3 separate regions of the Homo sapiens genome follow, and regions 1 and 3 are each linked to region 2. Evidence: fine-mapped expression QTL. A gene starts in region 2. Each other region holds a variant in brackets. All regions are shown on one strand. Distances are from middle to middle.

Region 1 (8,283 bases), 70 kb after region 2:
TCAATTTGAAACCTAGGCACTTGGACTAACTTAAAAGATCATGTAAAAAATTTAATTTTTGTCTGGTATAGATTTAATTGTGGTTTTTTTTTTCTCTTTTAGATATAATTGATCCTGTTGCTTTAGAAATTCCATTATCCAAAAACCTTCTGGCACAGATTAGTGCTCTTGCTCTTCAGCTGGATTCAGAAGATCTTCATAATTATTCAGGAAGCCAACTATTTGAAATGCACGAGAAACTAAGTTGTATGGCAAACTCTGTAATAAAAAATCTACAGTCACGTTGGAGATCACCATCCCATGAAAATTCTATTTAGTATTTTCAGAGAAAATTGAAGGTTTTTTTAAACATCACTGGATTTCTTGATTGAGGAAACAAGTTCTGAAATAATAGCACAATTTCAAAGAAGAGACTCTTTGCAAAGTTGATAACATTTCAAACCCTGAAGGACAGTGACTTATTATGTAAGTTCAATTTTGTAAGTTCATTATGTAAGATCCTTTTTTTTTTCATAATATGTATTCTTGGCTGCTATGCGTGGTTTTTCAGGAAATTTAATTATCTTACTGAGATGTGAAAGCAAAACTAGTAACAGAACTTACATTTTATTTCATGCTTTCTTAAACCCGTGCATATTCTGGTGAAACATGTAAAATACTTTAAGTAAAATTGAACATTTTTATTTGAATTTTTGCTGAACTGATAAAGGTGTTTATATTTTTGTTTGTTGGTTTGTTTAATTCATGTTTGTTGGGACTGAGGTTTAGGAAGTTTGTTACTGGTTAAAAACCTCAAATGAAATGCGAAAGAATTTGAATTTTTCCTGCATATGTCAACTTTGGACAGCTTTCAAGAAAAATGAGAAAAGTTTCAACTTCTGGCGGTTAAAATATTAATGCAGAATTTACTAAGATTTTATTCATTTGCATTAGCAAATATTCATGCAGCAGCAGTTGACTGAAAATTTATTCTTATGAGACGTATAGTATTCATTTTTAAATGCATGATTGTACATTATGTATAGACGACAATGTTTTTAATTTATAAATTTCATTCTTTGTTAATTGCATGGGTTTTTCTGCAGCTTATTGTGAATACCTTGGTTCTGTTCAATAGAAACATTTTGTATATATTAAATACTGAAATATCAGTATCGACGGTGGAAGTGCTTCATGGGCTTGCTGCACATATTTGTAGGATACTGTATCTGCAAATGCAACAACAAATAGTTTTGTACTTGGTTAACAGTCTTAGTTAAAACATGAGTTTATTTTCTAAAAGTATCCAGAATAAGTAAAATTATAGAAATAAGAAAATGTTACACAACTTTGCTGTTCATACCCTTACCTTCTTACTACTTTTGGTTTGGAGGAGGGTATCACCACTAGAAAGTGTGCCTCCTTAAGATTTCTTAAAGGAAAGTTAGTTTCAGTATTTCACAGCAAGTTGGACTACAAAATCTAGAGTTGATCTGCTTTTTAAACCTTCATTTAAAAGCAAACTTGGAAGAAATTTGAAACTGATGTTTTTAATATATGTCTGTGTTGCCTAGGTTTTCTTTTTTTAAAGAGGTATGTAATTAAAACCTTTGTAAAATTTGCCAACTAATATTAGTGCCTGACTTCCCATATTTGTTTCATCTTTTTAACTGACAGTATATCTCACTTCTTCTTTGAATAGAATGAGTGAGTGATCTCAGTTTTCACATTTTATTCAGAAGCTAATCCCTACTTAGCAAGGCACACATTCTACAGCAAGTCATAGAAAGTTTAATCCTTGTGCCTCCTTAGCTCTCGTATATTCAGGGATCTCTATAAAAGTTGGTGTCTTTTTTCATCATCATAAATTCATCATAATCACAGATATTTTTGGGTCTAAGATATTCATATACCAAGGATGGTTTTGTAAAGAATTCTGGGATCATTGAATTAAGGATTGTGGCTTGAAGTAACTAAAGAAAAATACTAATTTCCTTAAAAGGAATTATAATTATGATTTACATTTTACATCATTAATTTCCCAAATTATATTTAACCGTAAGGAGGTGCACATGAGTTTTTAGCAAACAGGTATGAATAAGCAGCTATGTATATGTGTTTGGGGCAGAGGGGAGCAGATTACTTTAACACACTTCAGAATTAAAATCAGTTCGTTTCATGACTCTGTGCCTTAACGTTTGTGTGAACTAAACTTGCTGATTGAATGAAATTCTTGGGAAGCCGAACAGTAATAGCAGAAAATGTGACCAAATGAGTATCATGTACTTAAATCACTGAATTTTATATAAGCACAAGTATTAATTTTAAAAACATTATAGTTTAATAAAGCTGCATTTAAAAATATTTGGGAGCAAAGACAAGCATGCTAAATCTTCATTTTGCTATGGCTATAAGCATATATTTTTGGCAACTTATTTGCAATATTCTTGCCTTAAAGTTTCCTGCAAATTTCCCCCTTAGTAATTCCCGAATAGCAAAACATTAATATTCCATGATTAGCTCTACTGTGTTGTCTCACTATTAAAATGGAATTCGTTTTTTCAGATCTTTTCTAATGGTTAATAAAACAAATGTCAGATCATAATAACACTCAAATGTGTCTTAATTGTCTTATGCATATTTAAGAAGAAAAAACTAGTGGCATACAGGATTGTCATGTAGTATCTTTTTTTTTTTTTGAGACACAGTCTTGCTCTGTTGCCTATGCTGGAGTGCAATGGTGCGATCTCGGTTCACTGCAAGCTCTGCCTCCCAGGTTTACACCATTCTCCTGCCTCAGCCTCCCAAGTAGCTGGGACTACAGGTGCCCGCCACCATGCCCGGCTAATTTTTTATATTTTTAGTAGAGAAGGGGTTCACTGTGTTAGCCAGGATGGTCTTGATCTGACCTCGTGATCCGCCTGCCTCGGCCTCCCAAAGTGCTGGGATTACAGGCGTGAGCCACCCCACCTGGCCATTTTCTTTTTTTTTTGAGGTGGAGTTTTCGCCCTTGCTGCCCAGGCTGGAGTGCAGTGGTACGATCTCAGCTCACTGCAACCTCCACCTCCTGGGTTCAAGCGATTCTCCTGCCTCAGCCTCCCAAATAGCTGGGATTACAGGTGCCTGCCACCACCACTGGTTAATTTTTGTATTTTTAGTAGATACGGGGTTTCACCATGTCAGCCAGGCTGGTCTCAAACTTCTGACCTCAGATATCCACCTGCCTCAGCCTCCTAAAATGGTGGCATTACAGGCGTGAGCCACCGCTCCTGGCCCATCATTTCCATATCTATGAAATCTATTTTGGATTTTAGAGTGGATTTAAATTTTCA[A/G]TATTTCAGTGACCTCATTGTTAAAGCTGCTTTGCCACTTGTACAAGTTTGAAAACCATTGTTGAATCATATGGAGCTTTACTCTAATTCCAAATAGTTAAAGGATGAATCAGGTTAAATAATGCTGTTGGATAATACAGGCAAAAACAGGATTTAAACCCGCACATTAAAAGCATGACTGAAGGCCCGGCAGGTGGATCACTTTGGCCCAGGAGTTCAAAACTGACCTGAACAATGTGGCGAAATCCTGTCTCTACTAAAAATACAAAAACCAGCCAGGCATGTTGGCGCATACTTGTAATCTCAGCTACTCAGGAGGCTGAGACATGAGAATTGCTTGAACCTTTTAGGCGGAGGTTGCAGTGAGCCGAGATCATGCCATTGCGCGACAGAGCAAGTCTCTGTCTCGCAAAAAAAAAAAAAAAGTTTAATTCTAACATTGCCCATGGATTTTTTTTTTTCTGTACAGCTTGAAGATAAGATAGTTAAAGACTCTGTTACAATTTAAACATCATAAAAATGTGAAGAGTAAGTGGTGAGGCAAGAAACAAAATTGGGGGAAATGGTGGGGATCGTGAATATATAAGTGAAGTTTTATTTTTTTAAGGTGTAAAGGAGTGAGAATAGAGTAATTGCTTTTTAAAAAGAAAGTATAAATGGGTTAATTTTTTTCTTCCAACTTTGACTTTAATTCAGTAAGAAAGGCCTAGGTTTCATCTCATATTCTTCATAATTGATTTTCAAGAAGTTAATTTGTCATTCAGCCTAGGAGGCTATAAAACAGCAGTTAGTTGGCATTATTAGACTAAAACTTGGGTGGGGGGAGGAGACTGTTTCCTCATTGCTGCAACCCATGGTCTATCCTATTCCTAAGCCATTAGAAAGACCTTGTACTTTGTATAGAAACATTAGAGTGAGGTTTTGATTTTTAACATAGTACTCTCAAACTTTGATGTGCATATGAACAAGTGGATTCTGATTCAGTAGATCTGCATTGGGCCCCGTGAGTCTTTTTAAACACAGTCCCAGGTGATTCATGCAGATGCCTGTGAACTGCGCTGGTAGATGGGCCTAAGAGGCTTCAGGCTGTGTTTTAGGTTTTGGTAAGCCAGGCAGATTCAAGTCCTTTTATAACTGTCAATTTTGTGAATTGGGGATGCAGACTGGTTTTGAAGGCTTAAAGTTCAAAAATTATAAGAAAGTTAAGAATTTTGCTTAAGAGCCTTTTAAAAATATGGACGATTTATTTTTTAAGTAGGCAGACTAAGAATTTCAAGTTATAAAGAATCTTATTGATAAGGCAAAGTAGACAAAGTATTTTCTCATGAGTATTTGTGGGTTATGTTTTTGTTAATATAAAAGTTGATTTCTAAGTATTAGAATATATTTAGTCTCTAAATAAATCTTGCCTTCTATTATGGATCATCGTTATTAATAAACATGGAAAATCAACACTACCCCTAATATTAATCTGGCAGTTAAATTTAGTAGTGCTATAATGAATAAGTCAGTCTAGCAGATATGCCCTGTCATTATACTGCGGACCTCTGGTCACTTAATTTTCTGTTATATTATGTGGTTGAAAATTCCTGTTTCATCGTAAAGTGAAATTTGAAAGATGGAGTTGAATAATATGATTCTCGAAAAGTGAGTTTTTCTTGGAATTCTGTTAAGGTGTTAGATTTTCCTCACATATTTAAATAATCTGTAAGAACTACCCTGAAAGCACTAAGGAAAATGTAGCCGAAAGTTAAGTAATAGGTTTTAAAAATTTATCAAAATTTATTGATAGTTTGATCTGTAAAACAAATTGGGTTTCGTGCTTTCTGATGTCCAGTTAATAAGTATATTATGTGCCAGGCTTTACATATTGCTCTTTGCAAGTAGCCGTTAAAGTGTAAGTCATTGAAGTTTGAAGATCTATAAATATTTAATATAGTAGTCTAAACAGTTGTGAGAATTTACTCAGTTCTGAAATAGAATGTTAAATTTTCCGATGTGGTCCTAATCATTTTTTTCTTTACATACTAAGCCTTCCTTTCTCCAAAGAACAGTTAAAACCAAATGTGTTATGGTAAGCTGTAAATACCGTTGGAATAAAAGATAACCGTTCATCTTACCTAAAAAATTGAAGACAATATTTTCCATTGTTGATGTCACAAGTAAGAAAAAAACTCTAACTTTTGTACTCTACTTGTAGCAGAGGGAATATTTTTGGCCACAGTGTGCCAATTTATAATTGTAGATAAAGCTGAATTTACTGGGCAGCAAGCTTATATGCTGATAGAAGTTGATGCACTGAGAAGTGATGAGTTGAAGAGAATGGAAAAGGCAGATTGAGCTGGAATTTTAATGCATAGTACATTTAGTAGAGAGACAAGCTGTCCTATATACTCCTGTATACTTCAGAAATAGCTGATAGCCTATAGTCTCTGAGAGCTATTCTGTACATAGCACAGTATTATAATTGATGTTCATAAATACCCTGAGAGATTATGTTAAAATACATTATTAATACTCCCACAAAAGCAGTAAGTTAATAAGTATTTCCAACAAAAGGCAGCTTTGTTTCTTAAACGGATAAACAACATATAACTAGGAAGATCATCTTCAAAATAAAGTGTCATGGAACTGAAAATAGAGTATAGTCTAACAATTATTTTGATACACTATTGAATAGCTAACAAGTGTCTAAAGAATTTTTTATTTTTATAGAATAGGAAGTTTCTAAAAGAAAACAATTAAGAGCAAAATTGGTTTTGAGTATAGAAACTGAAGGATGGCAGTCTTAACTCCTAAGTTTTTTACAGAGCACAGATTGGTAAACTAGCATGCCACCTGTTTTTTGTACTATCTGTGAGCTGAGACTGGTTTTTACATTTTTTAATGGTGAAAAAAGTCAAAAGAAGGACATTTTGTGACACATGAAAACATATTAAATTAAAATTTCAGTATCCAGAAATAAAGTTTTATTGGAACAGCTGTGCTTATTGTCTTTAGCTGCTTTCCTGGTACAGTGGCTGAGTTTAGTAGTATAGCAGAGTCTGTATGGCTTCCAACAGTCAAAATACTGCCTGGCCTTTTAAAGAGTTTGTCAATCCCTTTTATGGAGGAAGGTTTTGCTCATGCATGGCATGTTAGTCAATTTAGTTATTTGCTTCTAGCTGGCAGAATGTGGTCTTGATTACTTAATTTCTGTTACCCCTGTGTTTTCCAGAATGGCTTCTCCTGATTTTACTTACGTGTTTTACTATTGCTCAAATTACAGATACTAGGAAACACTACTACTTTATAAGTACACTTCTTTTTCCTACTTAAACTCTCAAACTACAGTTACGTATTTGCCATGATGTTAAGGGACCTTGATGGTCTGTGAATTATCAGTTGCTTTCTGCACTACCTCCTGTAGATAGACCTGACTGATAGCACTTACAAAAAGACTGATAGATGCCAAATCAGTCATTTATTAACCCTCTAATATTGTTGTCCCGATCATTTGGTAAACGCTAAGAGAGCTTAGTTTTACATTCACAAAGTATTTGTATTTGATAAGTCTTAAAAATGATTTAAGTTGAAGCCTAACAGAAGTACTTGTTCATTCCTCAGTTACCTGCAAATAATGGAAATAATGGTGCAGTCAGTTTTATTTGATTGTGTAATGCTTTATACTAGGGGTCTCAAACCCCTGGGTGGCATTAGATTCTTACAGGAGCGTGAACCCTATTGTGAACTGCACATGCAAGAGATCTAGGTTGTGCGCTCATTATGAGAATCTAATACCCGATGATCTGAGGTGGAACAGTCTCATCCTGAAACCATCTACCCCAACACCTGTGTCTGTGGAAATTGTCTCCACGAAACCGGTCCCTGTTGAAAAAAGGTTAGGGGACCACTGCTTTATACAGTGTTTGAAGTAGGCACACTTACAGTTACTATTTCTGGTTCTTTATGACTGTTGAGGGGGGGCAGAATTCTATGTTTGATTCACAGTAAAACTTTTCATGAATCATTGAGGGTTAACTGTTATCACTTGCCAATGGAAACTGGATATTGAAACATTTTTTTAAGAAATGCACTTTTACCTGAAATAAAACTATAAAAACTAAACTCTGGTACTTGTTTTTGTTGGCTACATTTTGGTTTTTTGTTTTGTTGTTTTCGTGAGATCTGAAATGAGTATGAATAGTTTAATTCAAATACCACAAAGTGTATGTTATATTCCTCCACAAACATGAACCCTTCCTTTTCTTTTTCCCCTTTTATGGCCTGCTTTTTAACCACAGAGGTTTTCTGATTTATGCATAGTTTTATGGGTTCCACTGGTTTCTAAATCCAGAGGTGGTGGTTTTTCTGTTGTTGTTGTTGTTAATGAGTTCAGTTTCTCATTGAACTTGTTAGAAGAGAGGTTTCGTCAAATAAGGGCTGAGTAGATGCAGGCAAGCTTGGAGAGGCAGTCCACATGGTGTGGGCGAGGGCAGAGGTGGCACTGCCAGGCTAGTCACCAGATGAAGTAAATGCCTCACCCCAACATGACCTTAACTTCCTCTGCAGAACCAAGCATGTTGATGGCAGCCGAAGAAAAGCTCCATAGTTTTAAGGAAAACAACAACAACAACAATTAGGGTAAACAGTGATGTTGAAAGACACTGTATTAGTTTCCTAGGGCTGCTGTAACAGTACCACAAACCTAATAAGTTAAACAACTGAAATGTATTGTCTCAGTTTTGAATAGTAGAGGTCTGAGATATGGTATCAGCAGGGTTTGTTCCTTCTAAGGACTGTGTGGAAGTTATCTGTCCCATACCTCTCCCCAGCTAGCTTGGTGGTGTGCTGGCCATTTTTGACAGGTAGAGGTATTTCCCCAATCTCCCATCTTCATATGACTTTCTACCTATGTGCCTGTGTATTTGTCTAAATTTCCCTTTTATAAGGATAGCAAGGCCATTGGATTAGGGCCTCATCTGAATTAACA
Region 2 (8,260 bases):
TTTAAATTAATACAATCACTTAATAAATGCTTATTAAATACCTATTATGTGCCAAGATTTGTGCTAGGCACTGAACTTTGATGTAAGTATATTCTTCTAATTTTATTGATGAAGATGTGGTAACTTTAAGCATTTCTCTGGAGGATCTCAAGTCACACAGTGGCACAGCAAGTATTTAAACACTCATTTCTTTGATCCAAAGCTGAGCTCATTGCATTTACTATAATAATTTGGATTACAGATGAATACTTGATTTTACTAAACGAATTACTATATGAGCCCTTTACATAATGGGCTCCCATAGGACTTTACACTTTATTTTTCTTACAAGATTCAGTAATAAATCTATCATGAAAGCCATTTTACCACCGTGCCTTGTGCAGGGTAGAGCTCATTACATGTTGATGAATGAAAGTAGTTCAAGTAGACTTGTTGTTACACATGGCTAGATTAAAGTTCTCTGTTTTAATTTACTCTTTAAGCTTTACATGGCCTATGTGTAAATCCAGGAAAGTAATTCATCTTAGAATTATTGTGAGAAATAAATGAGATAATGCTTGCATGGGCTGGGCGTGTTGGCTCTCTCCTGTAATCCCAGCAGTTTGGGAGGCCAACGAAGGTGGATCACTTGAAGTCAAGCATTCCAGACGAGCCTGGTCAACATGGTGAAATCCCGTCTCTGACAAAAATACAAACATTAGCTGGGCATGGTGGTACACACCTGAAATCCCAGCTATTTGGGTGGCTGAGGCATGAGAATCACTTGAACACTGCAACATTTGAGGTTGCAGTGAGCTGAGATTGTGCCACTGCACTCCAGTCTGGGCAACAGAACAAGACTCTGTCTCGAAAAGAAAAAAAAAAAAGATAAGGCATGTATGGCACCAGGCACTCAATAAAAACTTTTTTTGTTTTTTTTTTTTAAGAAATAATATGTTTAGGTGTATTTAGGCTATAAATTGAGATTTTAGATACACATTGGTGGGTAGATCTAAGAATTATTGAGAAGGGAGAATCATTAGGACCACTGGGGACAAGTAAGAGAAAGGAGTCATTGATAGATATAGATTATAGGCTTGACGTTTGCTGAGTAATGTGTGCTTAATGTGGCTGGGCATGGTGGTTCAAGACTATAATCTCAGCACTTTGGGAGGTTAAGGTGGGAGAATTGCTTGAGCCCAGGAGTTTGAGACCAGTCTGAGCAACATAGCAAGACTCCATCTCTACAAAAAATAAAAATTAGCCAGGCATGGTGGTGCATTCTTGTAGTCCCAACTACTCAGGAGGCTGAGGTGAGAGGATCACCTGAGCCCAGGAGGTAGAGGCTGCATTGAGCCATGTTTGCACCACTGCACTCCAGCCTGGGTGACAGAGCAAGTCCCTGTCTCAAAACAAAACAAAACAAAACAAAACAAAAAAACATAAATGAGGAAGTTAGAAAGGAATATTGGATTGCAGATATAAGGCATCTAGAAAGGGAAGATGATCTGGGGAGAAGAGATATAGGATTTAGAGAGGGAAAGATAGAAATCGTGTATTAGTTAGATGATAGATGGATGAATTAATATATGAACAAATTATTTCAAATTATATTTATTGAGTGCTAGGTACTATGAATTTATTGCCCAAAGGTAGCAGATCCATGAGGGTGGCTATAAATATTTCTATATAAATTTATATGGAATTTCTATAAAAGAGAAGTTTTGGGGTAGCAACCAAGTTGTAAAGGTGTGTGAAGAGGGGTCTGGGTGGGGAAGGGTATTTGTTTTCATTCTGTAATCCCTTAGCACTCTAGATCAGATTGAGAAAATGTCAAATAGGAGGGAGGGGCACTGATGAGATGAGATTACAGATGGAATTAATCCCCATCAGGATAACTCTCAACTCTGCCACTGCACTCAAACACCTATAACCAAACAATAATAAATTAATGAGATACTCATTTTATCAGATCTATAGCATGATAGGAGGGAGGCAGGAGCATTTAATTCTCCATGAAGAGAATGTGTGTGGTTGGAGAGTAGATGAGGGAAAGATTTCACAAAAAGGTGTGATTTTAGTTGATTTTTTTTTTTTAAGATGGAGTCTTGCTCTGTTGCCCAGGCTGCGATGCAGTGGCACAATCTTGGCTTGAATCCGCCTCCTGGGTTCAAGCGATTCTCCTGCCTCAGCCTCCTGAGTAGCTGGGATTACAGGCATGCACCACCACGCCTGGCTAATTTTTGTATTTTTAGTAGAGAAGGGGTTTCACCATATTAGCCAGGCTGGTCTTGAACTGACCTCAGGTGATCCACTTGCCTCAGCCTTGCAAAGTGTTGGGATTATAGGTGTGAGCCACCTGACTCTTATTTATTACTCTTGAAGAAGGTAATTAATATTCTAAATACATGCTCTGAATAAAAGTCTTCAAAGACACAGAGAAGCTGGAGATCTTAGCAGACTGTTCAGAATCTGATGAAGTGGGAGTAATCTGGAGATGAAGGACAAGCAGTGGCCCAATCATGATAGGCTTGCATGTTATGTCAAAAGTTTTGAAATCCATCCTGTTACTGATGGGAATGGCTGGAGAACTTTAGGCACAGGAATGACAATGATAAAATCTTACATAACATTTTTGAGCTACTTATAAGGCTGAGGCAGGAGGATCATTTGAGCCCAAGAAGTTCAGGGCTGCAGTAAGTCACAATCACACCACTGCACTCCAACCCAGGTGACAGAGCAAGGCCTTGTCTTTAAAAATAATAAAATTTAAAACATAACATTTTTGGAAGATCAAAGAACCATACATATGAAAGAAATACAAGCAACATGACCACCGTAGTCCTTTCATTACAAATGGGAAATTATGAAAAAAATAAAGCAAAATCCCTGTTCTCACAGAATTTATGTTCTAATGAATGGGTAGAGGCAGGCGTGGTGGCTCAAGTCTGTAATCCCAGCACTTTGGGAGGCCGAGGCGGGCTGATCACGAGGTCAGGAGATCAAGACCATCTTGGCCAACATGGTGAAACCTGTCTATACTAAAATACAAAAAATTAGCTGGGCGTGGTGGCGCATGCCTGTAATCCCAGCTACTCGGGAGGCTGAGGCAGGGGAATCGCTTGAACCCAGGAGGCGGAGGATGCAGTGAGCTGAGATCAGGTCAGTGCACTCCAGCCTGGGTGATAGAGCGAGACTCCGTCTCAAAAAAAAAAAAAAAAAAAAAAAAAAAAAAAATATATATATATATATATATATGTATATGTATATATGTATGTGTGTGTGTGTATATATATAAATATATGTAAATAAATATAAATATATATAAATACATATAAATAAATAAATATATATATAAGCATACTATGTATGTACTGCGTCGTTTGGCAGTCATTTTGCTAAGTGCAGATGACACAAAGAAGAGCAAAAAGCAACATCCCACTTCTAGAGCTGAGAGTTGCAGCACATGTGAGTGAGGGCTCAAATCCTGGGCCAGGAACCCATGATGGAGAGTTCCATTGCTGCTGGGCTTCATGTGTCTGATTTAGAGTTAATGCAATCCTGTCTGTTGTGGAGAGTGCACGAAGGCATATGAAAAGGGGAGAAGCAGACCGGGCGCGGTGGCTCACGCCTGTAATCCCAGCACTTTGGGTGTCCGAGGCGGGTGGATCACGAGGTCAGGGGTTCGAGACCAGCACGGCCAAGATGGTGAAACCCCGTCTCTACTAAAAGTACAAAAATTAGCCAGGTGTGGTGGCGGGCGCCTGTAATCCCAGCTGCTCGGGAGGCTGAGTCAGAGACTCGCTTGAACCCGGGAGGCAGAGGTTGCAGTGAGCCGAGATCGCACCACTGCACTCCAGCCTGGGCGAAAGAACGAGGCTCCGTCTTAAAAAAAAAAAAAGGCGGGGGAGGAGCAGCATATTCACAGTAAGGAGAAATGACTGTCATTGTGTTTACTGACGTTTCTCTAGGGAAGAAGCCCTGGCCAAATCCCACCCTTCAACCCCCCAGGGGCCTAACAGAAGAATGCACATCCTCGGGAGCTACCTAAATCTACTGAATTACAATGCATATGGGCGGGGCCCAGGAATCTGCAGTTTAATAACGAATATCCCCAGGCCATTGTTATGTACGCTTAAGACCTGAGAACCATTGGCCTCTCCAACCTTTTCTCACTTCACCTATTAAAAGCCCTATTTTATAGAGGAGGAAATTGAGGCATAGGTTAATTAACTTGCTAAAGTCACATGGAACCTAGACCAGCTGGAATCTAGACCAGCTTGAGATACAGTTCTTTTCTTTTTCTTTCTTTCTTTTTTTTTTTTTTTGAGAGACGGAGTCTTACTCTTACTCTGTCGCTCAGGCTGGAGTGCAGTGGCGTGATCTCGGCCCACTGCAACCTCCGCTTCCCGGGTTTAAGCGATTCTCCTGCCTCAGCTTCCCAAGTGGCTGGGACTACAGGCGTGCGCCACCACACCCAACTAATTTTTGTATTTTTGTTTTTTTTAAGTAGAGACGGGGTTTCACCATGTGTTGGCCAGGCTGGTCTCGAACTCCTGACCTCAGACTCGGCCTCCCAAAGTGCTTGGATTACAAGGTGTGAGTCACCGCGCCCGGCCAGCTCTTAGTCTTAAACCCAACAGTACGTTATCTCCTTTTGCTAACTGATTTGTTGCTAAAACTTCAACAAGCACTGGACTTGGAGTTTGAACACTTAGTCTGAGGGCCCACTATGTTCAGTCTAGTGAGTCTGAGCAATTAACTCACATTTTGAATTTCAAGTCTCTCGCCTTAGGCAAAACACCACCACCTGATGCTCACCAGAGGGGCGTGACGCGGCAGCTGGGCAGGGAAGGGATGGGAAGGGATGGGAAGGGAGGCGATCGATAACTCCGGTGTGCCGCTGACTGTTGGATTGGCTCGAACTTCTCCCGCCAGGCCTAACCTACTCCCGCGCACTCCTGGGCCCGCCCAGCCGCCATCTTGGTCTAGGAGGGAGCGCGCCGCACGCGTGAGTAAACAGCCGGAGCTGGGAAAGTCGAGCTCTGGCAGCGTCTGGGTGCTGAGGGGCAGAGGCGGAGAGAACCCTGTCCTGATCTTCCTAGGTGGGATAAATATCGGGGTGACAGTGGTAGGCCGCGGGGAACCCTCAGTCTGCCCACCCTCCGCCCCCTCGCGGCGAGATGCCTCGTTCCCCGGGCTTCTCCCGCCCTCCGCCGATCTCCTCCCTCTGTTGAAAGCTGCCCGGGAAAGTGGTGGCGGGAGCGGGCCCAGGCCCGAATGTGGCGTGGGCTCAGGTGTCTGGTGTCGGGCGCCGGAGGAGGTTCGCGCTGGGGTTTGGTGATTCGGAGGCCTGGGGTGCAGACGCGGCGTGGCTGTGAGGCCCGGGCGGGCGTGCGGGTGTGAGGGCCGGACTCACACTGGGCCGCCGCGGGGCTGTTTCCATCGGTCACTGGATTTTCTCCTCTTCCGGTTCGGGCCTCAGGGTGGCCGACATGACGGCCAGGGGTCAGAGCCCCCTCGCGCCGCTGTTGGAGACTTTGGAAGACCCTTCTGCCTCCCATGGAGGGCAGACTGACGCTTACCTGACTCTGACCAGGTGAGGTCCGCCACGGGGCGTAGCGGAGAGTGGGGCGCTCTATAGTGGGGAGAAAGAAGGTGGTTGGGAGGGGCGCGTAGAATGAATGTGAGTTCTAGAAGTCTAGCAAATGTGAGGACGCCCGAGTCGCGGACGCCTTGGGGGGCGGGGGAGATGTATTCTAGGTGACGTTCCCGGGTACTGCTGCTGCTGCGCTTGAGGTGTGTGTTTGGAACGAGGGAGCATGCACGTGTGTTTTGCAAGCGAGGGATTTTTAAAAGTTTCGGTTGGAAGTAGTTGTTGGAGGAGGGGTCTTCAGTGTAAACCTCCGATGTGTTGGGAAAATGTGGCTACCCAGAGTTTTTTTAACAGAGCAATACACTGATTTTTATTAATTGCAAAATGCTTCAAAGTAATTTTCATAGAAATGTACTAAAGTTTTGTAAAACCCTTTGGAAAGGCTTAGCAAATCGTTAGTAACTAGGAATAGGGATCCCTGTTCTGTCTTTTTGGAGTCAGGTTGTCACAACTTGCATGTACTCGATGTAAAAACTTATTCTGAGGGTTTTTCTACTTTCATTTCTGATATATATTGCATTATATATTCTGTATACCCTTAAGGACCTTACCTACTGGGTCAATTCATTTGCAGGAGTTAGAAAGTAATTTTTAAAAAGATTGTACATGTATTTTTGAGAGTATTTTTTTTTTTCCTGTCAACTACTTAAACTTGTGTTCTTCCTGCTTTTTAAGTCGTATGACTGGAGAAGAAGGAAAAGAAGTAATTACAGAAATTGAGAAAAAACTTCCTCGGCTGTACAAAGTTTTAAAGGTATGTATCTGTTTGTTAAACAGTTTTTCACTTTTGGTAGTTTGGTTTTTTTTTTTGGTTTTGTTTTTTTGTTTTGAGGTGTAGTTTTGCTCTTGTTGCCCAGGCGAGAGTGCAATGGCTCAGGCTCGGGCTCGGCTCACTGAAACCTCCGCCTCTCGGGTTCAAGCGATTCTCTTGCCTCAGCCTCCTGAATAGCTGGGATTATAGGCATCCGCCACCGCCCCGGCTAATTTTGTATTTTTAGTAGAGAAGGGGTTTCTCCATGTTGGTCAGGCTGGTCTCGAACTCCCGACCTCAGGTGATCCGCCTGCCTCAGCCTCCCAAAGTGTTGGGATTACAGGAGTGAGCCACTGTGTCCAGCCACTTTTGGTGGTTTTTAAAAGTTTTGCCAGTTGACTCAAAAGCTTTGAATCTAAAATAACAGCAATAATACTGATTATAATACTCTTTATTGTTACTTAAAGCTTCTCAGGTACTTTCTTAATTACCTTACACGCTTTATCACTTAACTCTCCATGGTTCCATGAGATTATTTCTTAATGATCACTTTGCAGGTGAAGAAATTAATTTAATTTGCCTAAAGTTGCCTAGGGGCACTTGAATCTGAGTTTGTGCTCTTGAAAGCAGAGATCAGAGATTAATCTGTTTTCTTTCCTTTTGGGAATCTACATCTAAGTAAGTGCTTCTAAAATTACAATTGTCTTTGGTCTAATCTAGGTAGCATTAATTTCTTTTTCCTCATTCACCCTCAGTTTTTGCTACAACCGTTATCATTTTTGCTTTAGGGAAATGATGTTTGACATCATACTGTGGACCTGTGTTCCTGTCTTCACTTGCCTACTTAATGGCTTCCTGACTATCCTTAACATCTTTTAAATTTCCTTGTTTTTAGAATGAAAAAGTTGAACTTTTATCTCCAAAGTTTGAGTTCTCATTTTTATGACCTTGTTCTCTTTTTTTAATTTTTTTTGTTTGTTTTTATTATGACCTTGTTCTTGTGCTTTTATTTTTGTTTTTAATTTTTAAAATTGAGGTGGGGGTCTTGATAGGTTGCCTAAGCCAGTCTTGAACTCCTGGGTCCAAGCGATCCTCCCACCTCAGCCTCCTTAGTAGCTGAGATTACAAGTAGGTGCCACCATGCCCAGCTTTTGTGCTTTTTGTTTGTTTGAGACAGAGTCTTGCTGTGTCGCCCGTGCTGGAGTGCAGTGGCACAATCTCAGCTCACTGCAACCTCTGCCTCCCAGGTTCAAGTGATTCTCCCGCCTCAGCCTCCTGAGTAGCTGGGATTACAGGCATGCCCCCACCACACCCAGCTAATATTTTTAGTAGAGACGGGCTTTCACCATGTTGACCAGGCTGATCTTGAACTCTTGACCTCAGGTGATCCACCCGCCTTGGCCTCTCAGAGGGCTAGGATTATAGGTGTGAGCCACCGTGCCCAGCCGTGTGCCTTTAAACAAGTGTTTCATCCAGACATGTACATTTTAACGTGATTTTTGGCGAAGTATTAACAGAGATACTGCCTACTCTTGGTGGTGTCACAGTCATCAACATTTTTTGTGTAAGCAGAAACTTTATTGTGTGCTAGTTACTTAATATCAGTGTTTATTCCATTTTCTTCATTATCATATTCCATATTATAATAATTAGATGTGAAGACATGCACTTTCGTGTATTGAGTATTTATAGGATCAGGAATTCTATTGCATACTTTTTTTTTTTTTGAGACGGAGTTTTGCTCTTGTTGCCCAGGCTGGAGTGCAATGGCTTGAACACCTCCTGGGTTCAAGCCGTTCTCCTGCCTCAGCCTCTCAAGTAGCTGGGGTTACAGGCATGTGCCACTACGCCCAGCTACTTTTTTTTTTGTATTT
Region 3 (8,000 bases), 25 kb after region 2:
GCCACGTCTGGCTAATTTTTGTATTTTCAGTAGAGACAAGGTTTCACCATACTGGCCAGGCTGGTCTCGAACTTCTGACCTTGTGATCTGCCTGCCTCGGTCTCCCAAAGTGCTGGGATTACAGGCAAGAGCCACTGCTCCCAGCCCTATAATTACTTTTATTTAAAATACTGGTACATTTTGGGGGCATAGTTTCCCCCCCTCCCCCCACTTAGGGTCTTGCCCTGTCACCTAGACTGGAGTGCAGTGGCTGACTGCAGCCTTGACCTCCTGGGCTCCAGTGATCCTCCCACCTCAGCCCCCCCAAGTAGCTGGGACTACAGGCGTGTGCCACCATTTCTGGCTAATTTTTGTATTTTTTGTAGAGGCGGGATTTGACCACGTTGCCCGGGCTAGTCTCGAGCTCCTGGACTCAAGTGATCCACCTGCCTCAGCCTTCCAAAGTGTTAGGATTACAGGTGTGAGCCACTGTGCTCATTCTACTACAATTTTTAATTGAAATTGTAGCTTATTTTTATGTTTATGAGCTGGCATGTATTTGGGTCTAACTGTAAACCCAGAAGTGTGAGGTAATGTTTGGGACTACAATCTTTAGGAATTAAGTTAAAGCATAAAATAAGAGTAGTTTAAAGATAGTAAGTTAAAAATAAGTTCAGAGCTAGGGAATCCATGACTGATGCTGTGGATCCGGGAAGTCATCAAGGAATCAGATGACTGTATTTTTACTCTGCCATCTTTGATTTGTCTTAATTGCAGACAGGAAGGAGGGAAGGCAGAAGAGCAGAAAAGACTTCTTCACAGCTTACTCACCTATACCTAGAAATAGCCTTCTAAGAATCTTATATACACATCCACTTAAATTTTACTGGGTAGAATGGCTCAGTGGCCGACTAGAAAAAGTAGTCAAAAATTGGGCACCCATCACTGTCCTGTGTAAAATCAGATTTTTTAATTAAAGGAGATTGGTTTATTGCATGGCAATTAATCTCTGCTACTGTAGAGATATTATTATGGAGCTCTTCTCATAAATAGAATAGAGTCCAGACGTGGTGGCTCACGCCTGTAATCCCAGCACTTTGAGAGGCGGGCAGATCACCTGAGTTCTCGAGTTAGAGACCAGCCTGACCAACATGGAGAAACCCCATCTTTACTAAAAATACAAAGTTGGACGGGCATGGTGGCACATGCCTGTAATCCCAGCTACTTGGGAGGCAGAGGCAGGAGAATCCGGGAGGAGGAGGCTGCAGTGAGCCGAGATCATGCCATTGCACTCCAGCCTGGGCAACAAGAGTGAAACTTCCGTCTCTGAATGAATGAATGAATGAATGAATGAATGAATGAACAAAAAGAATAGGAGACCCCAAAAAGGAAGTGTCTTGGACTGGAGAACTTGTTCATACAGTGATAGCCTTTATTTTCTTATAGAACTGTTAATTGAAATAGCTAAATGGCAGAGTAGTTGTAACAGACATTGTTGAGTGCCATTCCACCAAATACATGGCCTGATTGATGTTTCAGAATCCTTTTCAAGTTATTTATTTATTTATTTATTCAGGACGGAGTCTCACTCTGTCACCCAGCCTGGAGTGCAGTGGTGTGATCTCAGCTCACTGCAACCTCTGCCTCCTGGGTCCAAGCGAGTCTCCTGCCTTAGGCTCCTGAGTAGCTGGTATTACAGGAGCCACCGCCATGCCTAGCTAACCTTTTTGTAGTTTTAGTAGAGGTAGGATTTCACCATGTTGGTCAGGCTGGTTTCAAACTCCTGACCTCAAGTGACCAACCTGCCTCATCCTCCCAAAGTGCCAGGATTATAGGCGTGAACCACCACGCCCAGCCCTTTTAAGGTCTTTTTGACAAGTTATTTTAGCACAGACTGTGTCTTAATTTTACATATCCCCAGTCTTACTCATTTGGCATAAATGTTTTTTCTGAAGATTGGATTTAATTTCTATGCTGAATTTTAACAATATGATTATTGTTAAGATAGGGCAGTCCTGAATCTAAATGAATCTATTTAGATTTCAAAAATGTATTCAGTCAGTGGCCCCAGTAGTAATGATTTTTGATGGAATATATTAATAATTGATTTTTAAAATGATAGCCTTTTTTGACATAATGTAAACATATGCTTCCGTTTCTTTGTCAAATGGGGATAATGAGAATGCTAAAGCAGCTAGGACAGTATTTGTCAAAGTTTTGGCATTTTGTGCTGGATAATTTGTTTTTCAGGACTGTCCTGGTGTGGTGTTGAAGTTTAGTAGCGTCCGTAGTCTCTACTCACTAAGATGTCAATAGCATCCCCTCATTTGTAACCAACCTGAAGTATTCCCTGGTGGGAAATTGCCCCGGCACACAATATCTAATAAATATTACTTATTTGTTTTAAAATATATTTTTGATTTATTGAGTGTTTTTGGTTCAGCTGTACTGTAGTTTATCAAAATGCAAGTTTTGGGTAGAGCAAGGACAGCCTGGGGATTTATTTTTTTAAAAAAATTTTAAAATACGTTCTCTTGCTGTGATAAAAGACTGTTGCATAGCTAGTGTTAGAGTTAATCTTTAGCTTGGACGTCTCTTTAACTGTGTGCTTATTTTCTTTTAAGATATACTATGTAGTGCAAAAAGACTCAAGTTGTTAATGCAGCCTTTGAGTTCCATCCATGTGAGAACAGAAACTCTAGCATTAACAAAACTAGAAGTCTGGTGGTATTTACTGATGAGACTTGGACCTCATCTTCCTGCTAATTTTGAACAGGTAACATTACAAGTGTTGACTATAGCACTTTATGTTTTTGTTAATGTGTTCTTAAATTCTTACCAATGTAATCCTGTGGTGTTATTTTTGCTATTTATTAGCAGACTAGAACATATAAAAGGTCTTTCACTTTACTGGCAGAGAACTTAAATTCATTTCCCACAAGGGATATTGTTCAGTTGCTTGAAATGGAGCCCCTTTACCTGAAATGTTTTTATTTATTTATTATTAATTTATTTATTTTGAGATGGAGTCTTGTTCTGTTTCCCAGGATGGAGTGCAGTGGCACGATCTCGGCTCACTGCAACCTCCACCTCCTGGGTTCAAGTGATTCTCCTGTGTCAGTCTCCCGAGTAGCTGGGACTGCAGGCGCACGACCACACCTGGCTAATTTTTTGTATTTTTTAGTGTAGATAGGGTTTTACCATGGTGGCCAGGCTGGTCTCGCACTCCTGGCCTCAAATGATTCGCCCATGCCAGCCTCCCAAAATGCTGGGATTACAGGCATGAGCCACCGCGCCTGGCCCTGAAATGTTTTTAAATTAGCAAGTACTCAAACATTCTTACTCTACAAGCATTATGATTTTAAACAAAGGGTTTTTTCCCCTAGAGCATTTGGAATATAATTGAGAAGAAAACCAGCATCAGTGAAATAGAAATCAGCCGGGCGCGGTGACTCA[T/C]GCCTGTAGTCCTAGCACTTTGGGAGGCAGAGGCAGGTGGGTTGCCTGAGCTCAGGAGTTTGAGACCAGCCTGGGCAACATGGTGAAACCCCGTGTCTACTAAAATACAAAAAAGTAGCTGGGTGTGGTGGCATGTGCCTGTAGTCTCAGCTACTCGGGAGGCTGAGGAGAATTGCTTGAACCCAGGAGATGGAGGTTGCAGTGAGCTGAGATCACACCACTGCACTCCAGCCCAGGCAACAGAGTGAGACTCCATCTCAAAAAAAAAAAAAAAGAGAGAAATCAAGTGCTACACTGGGTAGATACAAGGTTGGACCAGTTCTTGTTTTTTTATTTCTTGCTCCGTTTTCTAGGCTGCATAGTGATAACCAATGACTGAATCCTATTTATAGGTTCTTTTTAATTGTTACACAATGATTTTACGAATTCTTCAGGATTTGCATATCCTTACTGGCATTTAGATATAAAGTTTAATCTTAACCTAAACCTTTTGAGTTATTTGCAGTTATTTCCATCCTTGGTTTTTGAATTTTTTTTTTTTTTTTTTTTTGAGATGGAGTCTCGCTCTGTTGCCCAGGCTAGGGTGCAGTGGCACGATCTCGGCTCACTGCAAACTCCACCTCCTGGGTTCACACCATTCTCCTGCCTCAGCCTCCTGAGTAGCTGGGACTACAGGCGCCCGCCACCACGCCCAGCTAATTTTTTGTATTTTTAGTAGAGACGGGGTTTCACTGTGTTAGCCAGGATGGTCTCGATCTCCTGACTTTGTGATCTGCCTGCCTCGGCCTCCCAAAGTGCTGGGATTACAGGCATGAGCCACTGCGCCAGCCTGGTTTTTGAATTTTTTTACAGTTAAAAGGAGCAGCTCTGCTAACATCTTTTTCATTTCTTTATCACTTATTTTGGATTTTGGGGGTACATTTTACTTCTGGGGGTATATTTTAGGGGTATATTTTATATTTTATATAAATAGCTGCATAGCAGGGAATGCATTCTTGGACAGGAGGACTTATAAATATACTTAAGCCATTTTTATTCAGTTTTTAATTTTTTAATTATTGAGTTTTAAATTTATATAACATGAAATAATTGAAGATGGGCATTGTCAACAATGTAATTTGCATCATAATGAATTTTCCAAATTCTACCATTATAAGGGTCCAATAGGCTAATTCTTTGCATTTGTCCAATACATTAATTGGAATAATTTATTTGGTAACTACATGTGACTGGTACTAGGATGATGTTAGAAATGAGCTTTGTCTGAGTTCATGTTTTCCAGAGTTTTAAAAAGTTAAAATTAGTCTACCAGTAATGTGTACAGTTCAGATGTTGATGTATATAAACAAATTTAGGTAATACATATTTAGGGCAAATACAGTTGTAATGTTCATATTTTTTCCAAATTCCACTTTTTAGCCTGTTTGTGCATGGAAACGATCTGTAAAATGGAATATATTAAGGCTCCATTTAATGAAATTTATATTATGTGAGGCTTTTAAAAACTGTGACAGTTGTATAGTTTATAGATCGATGTTTTCTTTTACCCCATAGGTTTGTGTGCCTCTGATTCAAAGTACAATAAGCATTGATTCTAATGCCTCACCTCAGGGCAATTCGTGTCATGTAGCTACATCTCCAGGTTTAAATCCTATGACTCCTGTACACAAAGGTAAGAGGTAGATATTCTTGTTTTTTGCTTTTTTAATCAGGCTTTGTTGACCTAGAAGCATAGTTTTGAAGTAGGAAAAAAAAAGGCTTTGAGAGGTTTTGCTCAGTGTTTTTCGTTTGAAATGAAGCACTTCATAATTTTTAGGTTCATTACCAAAAAATCCATTATCATGTTTTTCTGTTTTTTGTTTTTTTTTTTTAATATTACTGATTACTGTTGTAAGCGCATTGTTGTGGTTAGAAGAGACGGATGTTTTTTCAGTACATTATGTGAGGTGCCTTGCAAAAAAAGCCTCAGAGCAGCTAACATGAAGCTGTTGATTTTAGAACCAGAATCTTAGCGCTATTAAAAACAACACATCGGCCAGGTGAGGTGGCTCACGCCTGTAATCCTAGCACTTTGGGAGGCCGAGCCCAGCAGATCACTTGAGGTCAGGCATTTGAGACCAGCCTGGCCAACACGGTGAAACCCAGTCTCTACTGAAAATAAAAAAATTAGCCGGGCGTGGTCGTGGGCCCCTGTAATAACCAGCTACCTGGGAGGCTGTGGCAGGAGAATTGCTTGAATCCTGGGAGGCGGAGGTTGCAGTGAGCCGAGATCTCGCCACTGCACTCCAGCCTGGGCGACAGAGTGAGACTCAGTCTCAAAAAAAACAAAATAAAACAAAAACAACACTTCAGCCAGGTGCAGTGGCAGGCACCTATAATCTCAGCATTTAGGGGGCTGAGGTGGGAGGATCACTTGAAGCCAGGAGTTGGATACCACCTGTGCTACATAGTGAGACCCTGTCTCTACAAAAAATTTAAAAATTAACTGAGCACAGTGGTATCCATCCATCTATAGTTACAGCTACTTGGAATGCTGATGGGAGAAGTGCTTGAGCCCAGGAGTTTGAGGTTGTAGTGAACTATGATTGTACCACTGCACTGCAGCCTGGGCAGTACAATGAGACTCTGTCTCAAAAAAAAAAAAAAAAAAAATCTCAGCAGTTATAAAGTGTCTTCTTTATGTATGTCATTGAAAGACATATGATATACATGTGTGTCATATGTATTATTTTGTTTGCCATCTGAGTCTTCAAAATTTGTTACAGAATACCTGCATATTAATATTTCAAGGTATGGATTAATGCCTGAGACATTTAAACTCTGTTTTTAAAAGTTTCATTGAAATGAAATGTATGCATTTGGGTAGCTAATATAAAATGAGCTTGTATGACTTAACTCTTTTTTTTTTTTTCTTAAAGGTGCTTCCTCCCCGTACGGAGCCCCGGGAACTCCCCGAATGAACCTGAGTTCGAATTTAGGTGGAATGGCCACAATCCCATCCATTCAACTTTTGGGACTTGAAATGTTGCTTCATTTCTTGTTGGGTCCAGAAGCCTTGAGTTTTGCTAAGCAAAATAAACTTGTGCTGAGCTTAGGTATTTAAAGGTTTTAAGAATAATTTTAATTACTAAAACAGTCTAGGACTTAATGCATTGGGGTGAGGAGAGGTGTTATTTTGTCGCAGCCAAAATATTTTACAGTTGTGTATGAAATATGAATCTTTTTTTTATAGAAAACACACCTACTTAATAGACATTTTAAAGTTTTATAGTGAGAAATGTATTTCATAAATCTGTTGTTTTACATAATTATCTTTTATTCTTCCCTTTCAGAGCCATTGGAACATCCGTTAATCAGCAGCCCTTCCTTTTTTTCCAAACATGCAAATACACTTATCACTGCTGTTCATGATAGCTTTGTTGCAGTTGGAAAAGATGCCCCCGGTAAGAGAATTTGATTTATTATTTGCTCAAATGTGTGTTTAAAAAGAAGAAAAAATAGGCCAGTCACAGTACCTCACACCTGTAATCCCAGCACTTTGGGAGGCCGAGGTGAGTGGATCACTTGAGCTCAGGAGTTCGAGACCAGCCTGGGCAACATGACAAAACCCTGTCTCTACAAAGCATACAAAAACTAGGTGGGCATGTTGGCAGATACCTGTAGTCCCAGCTACTCGGGAGGCGGAGGCATGAGAATTGCTTGAGCCCAGGAGGTGGAAGTTGCAGTGAGCCAAGATTGTGCCACTGCACTGCAGCCTGGGTGATAGAGCAAGACTCTATTAAAAAATAAAAAATATGAAGATAAAATAACAAATATTTATATAGTGCCACCTACTGGCCAGATTGTGCATTGAGAACTTTACATTTATTCATTTAATTTTCGCAGTAACATACCATGTTAGTTCATTTTACAAATGAGAAAATGGGTTATACAGGAAGTACATAAGTTATGCAGAGTCACTTACGAGTGGTAGTACCGTGTCAAGCTCTATGGCTCTAGCATCTGTGCCTAAACTCCTGTGTTACATGGCCTATCAAATAATGAGGAAAGGAAATTTCAAAAATTGTTTGCTCTTTAACTGGTTGGAAAAAGAATCACAATGAATCACATAAATTTTTTCTATTGGTTGTTAGATATCCTTCTGAATCTCCGTGAACAATCTCTGCCCCAAAAGTAGTGGGCATTCAATTCAGAAAAGAAAGATAATTTAAAAAAAGATAAAACAATTACCCTTAGTTACACAATTCATTGTTAACATGTTATAGTTGTTTTAAGGAACACATTTATGGCTGGACATGGTAGCGCATGCCTGTAATCCTGGCAGTTTGGGAGAGGCTAAGGTGGGAGGTTCACTTGAGGCAGATGTTTGTGACCAGCCTAGGAAATGTAGTGAGAGTGCTATCTTTACAAAAAAAAATAATTAGATGGGTGTAGTGGTGTGTACCTATAGTCCTAGCTACTTGGGAGGCTGATGTGGGAAGACTGCTTGAGCCCAGGTTGTTGAGGTGACAATGAGCTATGATTGTGCCACTGTACTCCAGCCTGGACAGAGCAAGACCCTGTCT

Direction of the effects. Positions count from the first base shown, and alleles are read on the strand shown. Sizes are in standard deviations (SD) of each study's normalised expression.
In carriers of allele G in region 1, the expression in tibial nerve of the gene that starts at base 4,953 in region 2 tends to be lower than with A alone (moderate effect, 0.55 SD a copy in GTEx).
As copies of C replace T in region 3, the expression in minor salivary gland of the gene that starts at base 4,953 in region 2 goes down (moderate effect, 0.50 SD a copy in GTEx).

The links. PIP is the estimated chance that this variant, and not a neighbour inherited with it, causes the effect.
Region 1: its variant is fine-mapped to the expression of RIF1 in tibial nerve (GTEx, PIP above 0.99). The same link has a PIP of 0.9 or more in atrial appendage and nucleus accumbens.
Region 3: its variant is fine-mapped to the expression of RIF1 in minor salivary gland (GTEx, PIP 0.91).

Annotation. Positions count from the first base shown.
Region 1 is chr2:151,474,755-151,483,037 of GRCh38, forward strand. RIF1 (replication timing regulatory factor 1) reads left to right here. Exons shown (of 36, transcript NM_018151.5): 36 at 103-7,418. The coding sequence ends at 317. Among named protein-coding and RNA genes, the nearest start is that of RIF1, 69 kb to the left of the region's middle. The variant A/G (reference allele first, on the strand shown) is at 3,312.
Region 2 is chr2:151,404,950-151,413,209 of GRCh38, forward strand. It overlaps RIF1 (replication timing regulatory factor 1), which reads left to right and starts at 4,953. Exons shown (of 36, transcript NM_018151.5): 1 at 4,953-5,084; 2 at 5,465-5,578; 3 at 6,311-6,389. The coding sequence starts at 5,475. RefSeq lists enhancers at 3,864-4,562, 4,563-5,261, 4,866-5,025 and a silencer at 3,866-4,160.
Region 3 is chr2:151,430,474-151,438,473 of GRCh38, forward strand. RIF1 (replication timing regulatory factor 1) reads left to right here. Exons shown (of 36, transcript NM_018151.5): 10 at 2,604-2,755; 11 at 4,990-5,107; 12 at 6,354-6,530; 13 at 6,768-6,878. Among named protein-coding and RNA genes, the nearest start is that of RIF1, 25 kb to the left of the region's middle. The variant T/C (reference allele first, on the strand shown) is at 3,436.